2 separate regions of the Homo sapiens genome follow, and region 1 is linked to region 2. Evidence: fine-mapped expression QTL. A gene starts in region 2. The other region holds a variant in brackets. All regions are shown on one strand. Distances are from middle to middle.

Region 1 (2,875 bases), 25 kb before region 2:
CGTCCTGGTGAAAAGGACACCTTCCTGCCCGCCCACCATGTCTTCCTTGGAAATGCCAGGAAATGGGCTCTGTGCTGATCCAGCTATTTGGGAGCAGTGTCATGGACATGGGCAGAGGGACAGGCTTATCAGCCAGTGGTGTCTGAGTCTCCCGACCTCCCGGTGGGGCCTTCTGGGCCCTGCCGGCTCTTCTGTTTTCCAGAGACCAGACCTTCCTCCCTGTGGGAGGACAGGGTACCACACAGAAGCGGACAGTGACAGTGCTGTACCCGCACAGAACTAGTTTATTCAGTAGTATGGGGCATGAAAAAACAACAACAACAAAACGCTACCCTATTTACAGCAACAACCAAACTGTACAATCTGATGGTTAGTACCAAGTTAGCATCCAGCATCTTTGTATTTTTTTTAAATCAAGTCATCAGTAGTAAAAACCAGTTAAATTTTTAACCCTTTGCAGGAATTGCTGAGGGGAGAAGACGGGGGAGAATCCACGGCAGAAAAGCCAGAGGCTGGCCTCACAAATGAGAAACAGGAGCCTTTCTTTCCTGCCCACAGCCTCTTTTTCTAGCCACCTGCTCCAGAAGGAAAGTCAGTGACAAGTCTGGAATACATGCTTGGAGTAAATGGTGACTCAGATGAAAAGCAGTCGGCAAAACTGAGGAGAGGGGAGGAGAGGTGGGGAGATGATGGCCTGGGGCAAGGGGAAGGGCGTCAAGCCCCCAAGCCAGGGCTGCTGGGAACACCCAGCCTGTGATGGCCATATCAGACCCCCGGGACTGGACACGAACCCATCCCAACACAAAAAGCAAATAAATAAAACAAATATATTAACTCTCTCTTCACAGGGAGCTGGGGTGGAGTCGGGGAGAAAGAGGAACAGGACCTGGTCCTTTGAAGAAGAGAGCCAATTCCAAGAAGGGGTTAAAAATAGAACATGTCTCAGAGGCCACAGCAGGTTAGACAAAGTAGCATTTGTCTGATTTTGGGGGGTGGGGTGGGTGAGTGGACACCAGAACCCAGACTTGAAACCTGTGCTTGATTGAGCA[C/A]CCTCAGGGCAGCCGAGCCAGCACTGTGTTTACTCTTCCTCCCCCACCCACATCACAGCAAAGAAGCGCAACTTAACACATGACTGGCCTGCCCGGGGCGCGGGGCGGGCACGAAAAATGAAGCACTTTTGGGTCAGCAACTGAGCAAACACCTGGGCTGCCGCGCACGGCCAGAGTCCAGGAAAAGGAGAGGGGCTGGGGCTGCCCGACCCCCGCCTGGGGGCACAGGCTCCCCTGAAAATGTGTTCATGCAGCATTTGGGGGTCCAGGGGCGCTGAGTCCTTCTGCCCCCTCACCGGACAGGGCTTTTCCAGTTCCTGGGAGAGGCAGTGCGGGCAGGACGAGGCACACCCTTTGCCCTGGCCCCTCACCGTTCTGAGGCCTGCCCGGGTGCAGCCTGAAGGGTGTGAAGCCCTGGCTGCGTGTGGCTTTGTCCTTTCCTTTTGGTGATGGCGTATGAGGGGCAGGCCCCCCAGGAGTCCCTCTCCTCCCAGAGGCACAGCAGATGGGAAACTGAGGAGAGGCTGGGAAGCATCCTGGGAGGTCCTATCCTCTTTGGGAAGGGAAAGGGGAGTCAATTTCCAGCGTATAAAAAAAATGAATCCCTGAAGTCATGAAGAGTGGAGATCCTTTTTTAAATTCTTTTTTTCCTCTTTTCTGAAAAACTTTGTCTTGGAGATGTTGGCCCCAGGGGTCCAAAGTGCAGTGAGGGGAATGGTGGGGGGGGAGTTGGCACTAGATGGCCTTAGGTGGGGTGAGTACCCCTCCCGGCAAGGCCCAGGCTCCTCAGATGGACGTTTCGTCGCTGCTGCGGGCAGGCGATGGGGAGCGGGGCAGGATAAAGCACAAGACAGGAGCAGGGCATGAGTGCGGCTGGGGAAGGGAAGGGAGCCTCGGGCGTAGGAACCACGGCCCAGGGTTAATGCAGGAAGTTAAAGAAGAGAAATCTGGAGAGGCAGGAAAGGAAAGTGGCAGAAAAGGCAGACAGAGGGTTAGTTGAAACAGAGGAGAGAGTGAAAGCTTTCACCAGACGAAGGAAACAGGAAAGCACCCCCAGCTCCCCATCCTCCCGCACTCTGCCCTAGGCTGGGCTGCGCCGCGTAGAGCCTAGGAGGGGTGGCCCTCCCCGCAAGGCACCATGGTTTGTGGGCACGGCATAGTAAGGGAGCTGGGCCAGTTCTGCCCATTTGTCCTCCAAATGCCATCCAGAGTCACCTGGGGAGGCCCGGAGGCAGCTCTGGGCCCAGGTGAGGCCTCCGAGGGGCTGCACCCCGTCCCGCCCACCCGGCCACACTCACTCGGAGCCTGACGAGTCCTCATCCACCGTGCCTGCCTTGATGCTCATGGCGATGGGCATGACCCCGTTCAGCTGCTCCTGGAGGCTCTGCCGGGGCGGTGGGCGGGGAGGGGGGCCTCCCCGGCTGCCCTCACTAGCGGAGGAGCCCCGGGAAGACCCTGTGCATTGCTCCAGGGGGAGCCGCAGGAGGCTGCTCTTCTCGCTGATGGTGGGCAGACACTTCTTCTTAAGGATGCCTGTGGGCCGGGGCGGGGCTGTGAGGTGCGGCCACAGGAGAATGTGAGGTATGAGGCTGCTGACTAGGGGAGCTCGGCAGCTGGGGGTGCCCCACTCACCTTTGTGAGGCTGGGCAGAAGAGCCTGGAAGGGGGCCTAGGGACCCCTCTCGAGACAGGGCATCTCCATTCTCCCGCAGCCGCTCCTCAGGGGCCCCGTTGCCACTACTCTCTTTTGCTGTGGTCCCAAAGTCTCCTGGCCAGGGGGCCTTGCCAGGCCCTGGGCCCCCATCTGGTGGGGAAAGGAAGTAGATG
Region 2 (2,895 bases):
TCCTTGTACTCCTGCTGCTCGAACACAGGGTCATGGTCATTGGTGTCAGTAACCAAGATGGTGAGTGTAGCCAGGGCACTTCGTCGGGGCATGCCGTGGTCCTGCGCCGTGACCCTGAAGACGTGGGTGCTCTTGGTCTCACGATCCAGCTCCTCGGCTGTGGTTACTGCACCAGTGACTGGGTCCAGGGAGAAGAACTGGTTGGAGCGGCTATCAAAGAGGGCATCCATGGTGTACTCCAGTCGACCTGCCTCACCCTCGTCCGGGTCGATGGCCCTCAGGGATGCAACAGGGGTGCCTGCTGGCTGGTTCTCCGGCACTGTGGCCTGGTAGCTGGGGGGCTGGAACTGGGGGGCTGTATTTACATTCCTTTTCCGACGCCCACCCAGGGACTCTTCTGGTGACCTTTCCCCTGCCCTGAGCCCGGGGGCCTGTGCCAGCTTGCAGGACTGGCATCTGAGCCGTGGAGCCTTTAAGCACGGGTGCTCCTCGGGCAGTGTGAGCTTGCCCTGTGGGGAAAGGTGGCCTCCAATGCCCAGGAGGCGACAGCTCCAGGGGCAGCCTTCAGGAGCTGGTGGTAGGGGAATATGGGCCTCGGATTCTGGACACCAAACCCTCAGGCCATCGTGGTGGGGTACCAGGTGGCCAGTCAGCTCAGTGCCCGCATCCCTGCAGCGGCTGGTGTAGAGCCAGAGGTTCGACGCTGAGGATGGACAGAGCCAGCCCATGGGGGCGCAGGCCCCCGAAGAGCCTCGTCCCCTGGACCCCAAGGAACGACAGGGCCCCACTTGGTCTCCCAATAGTGGCGGCGGCAGCAGCAGCAGCAACAGCAGCAGCAGCGGCGGCGGCGGCGTTGGGAGGGGGACGCCGGTGGCCGGGCTCCGCATCTCTCCCAGCTCCCGGCCGGCGGCCGGGTCAACGGCGGCGGCGGCTCCTCCTCCGGCTCCTGCCGGCCCCGCCGCGCCTCATGCCCGGGCCAGGGCGCCAGTCCCCGGGGGCCTCCCGTGCGCCCCGCGGGGCCTGCGTCTGGATGGCTCGGCGGGACCCCGCGCTGCACCCTCCGACGAGCCCGGGCTCCCACTGCCCCCTGAGCCAGACCCGCTCCCGGGTCACCCTGAGCACCGCGGGCTGCCGCCGCGCCTCCACCTGCGCTCCGGGCACTCACCACCTGCGCCCGGGGGCCCCGCGGCGCCCCTGGCCTTGCCGGGCCCCGGGTTCCGGAGCCGGGGTGCCCCCTCCGCCCCTATGGGATCGCCCACCTGCGCCCGCGTAGCCGTGCGCCCCGACCCCGGCCCGGCCCCGGCGGCCCCCGACGGTCCCGCGCCGCCCGCTCGCGCCCCGCGTCCCCGCCGCGGCTGCTGCCTGTCGCCGCGGCCCCGGGCCCAGCCCCGCGCTCCCTCGCCTCCCCGGCGGGCGGGCGAGCTCTGCAGAGTCGCGGCGGCGGCTCATTACCATAGACCTGCTCGCGCCGCGGCCGCCTTAAAGCGGCAACGCCGGCCGCGCTGGAGGAGGTGGGCCCCACCCAGAGCACTCCTCCGCCCAAAGCGCCAGGATTCCCTCCAGCAGGACCCTCCATCCCAATTTCCCCAGGCCGGCCTCGCCAGATGCCCGGTGCGAATTAGCGATCGGAAGCCACACAGCCGATGATAATCATGGTGGAAGTACCCTAAGTATGCCTAGAGGTTTCCAAAACATTTTAAGGGCTCTCAGAGGCCAAGTTTCCAGTTCATTCCAGTCATAAAAGCCCTCGTTGCTGTCCCCTCCCATAGGTCAGACAGAGTTAAAAGGGCCCTGAGCAACACAACAAAGCCTCCAAAATCCCAGAGAAGCACCCACAATGAGTCACCGGGCCCACTCGCTCCCTACCGTCCCCTCCACCCCACCAGCGAGGCTGTTGTCTGACCAGCATGCCCCTTGGGGTCGGGCTGTTGGAAGAATGACCCCAGCCTCATGTTGGACACCACTTGGGCTTTTCCAGGGAAGTAAATTAGAAGGGTCAGAGTGGGTGGAAGCCAGGTGGTGCAAACACACTGTCACCAGATTCGGAGGCCGGCTGCGGTGGAGCCTAGCTTTAACACAGGCTTCCTGGATTCTAGACAAGGGGCTTACACTGCCCCCTGAGGTCCTGTCTAGAGAGGCGGCCTCTCATCCCCTCCTGCCTCCCTGTCCATGTCCTGCGGCTACCCCCTCCTTCCGCCACAGTTTTGTGACCAGCGAGGAGGCCTACCTGGTACCCGGGCTCCTGACCCTCTCCAAGGCAGCTTCATTTGAGAGGGTGTGCAGGATTCCAGGGGTTCTCCAAGAGGACCAGACATGAAGCTGGACCACACGGAGAGCCAGGCAGGAGCCGTGCAGGCGACCCAGAAAAGGCTTCCCTACATCCTGGAGCAGCCAGGGGCCCAGTCAGGTAGTCCCTGGGGGGATGCCCTGGCCTGGGGGGATGCCTGGGCCTGGGTCCCAGCCTCCAACACCACAGCTATGTGACCTTGCTCAAATTCTGTGCCTCAATGTCCCTTTTTGTAAAATGAGGGGATTGAATAAGGTGAATGGTTCTCAAATGTTTATTTAGCAGTAGAATTCTTTTCTTCAAAAGAAATCTGAAGTGGAAGGCCAGAATATAGAACAGATGAGTAGTGCTGCTGGGTTGAAGTGAGGGGGTCAGGGCCTTGCCCCTCTCCACCACTCCCCCAACCAAGAAATCCCTGGGCTGCTCTGTGCAACTTGAGGGTCTGGAGGAACCCATCTGAAAAGCACTGGATCAGGTGCTCCCTTCTACCACTGCCCCCGGTCACAGTGGTGCCACTCTCACTGGGTCACAGCAGAGGATCCCCCAGCCCCAGGCCCAAGGAGTGTCTGTGTGACCACACAGTGAGGCCAAGGATGAGAAATCAGCTT

Alleles and levels. Alleles are on the strand shown, and positions count from the first base shown. SD is a standard deviation of normalised expression in the study named.
As copies of C replace A in region 1, the expression in liver of the gene that starts at base 1,428 in region 2 goes down (large effect, 1.1 SD a copy in GTEx).

The links.
Region 1: its variant is fine-mapped to the expression of CELSR2 in liver (GTEx, PIP 0.96).

Annotation. Positions count from the first base shown.
Region 1 is chr1:109,273,143-109,276,017 of GRCh38, reverse strand. It overlaps CELSR2 (cadherin EGF LAG seven-pass G-type receptor 2), which reads right to left. Exons shown (of 34, transcript NM_001408.3): 32 at 2,682-2,852; 33 at 2,348-2,582; 34 at 267-1,996. The coding sequence ends at 1,969. Among named protein-coding and RNA genes, the nearest start is that of PSRC1, 8.6 kb to the left of the region's middle. RefSeq lists cis regulatory regions at 1,050, 1,035-1,054 and an enhancer at 1-1,766. The variant C/A (reference allele first, on the strand shown) is at 1,050.
Region 2 is chr1:109,248,072-109,250,966 of GRCh38, reverse strand. CELSR2 (cadherin EGF LAG seven-pass G-type receptor 2) reads right to left here and starts at 1,428. Exons shown (of 34, transcript NM_001408.3): 1 at 1-1,428. The coding sequence starts at 887. RefSeq lists silencers at 1,070-1,169, 1,330-1,389 and an enhancer at 1,391-2,111.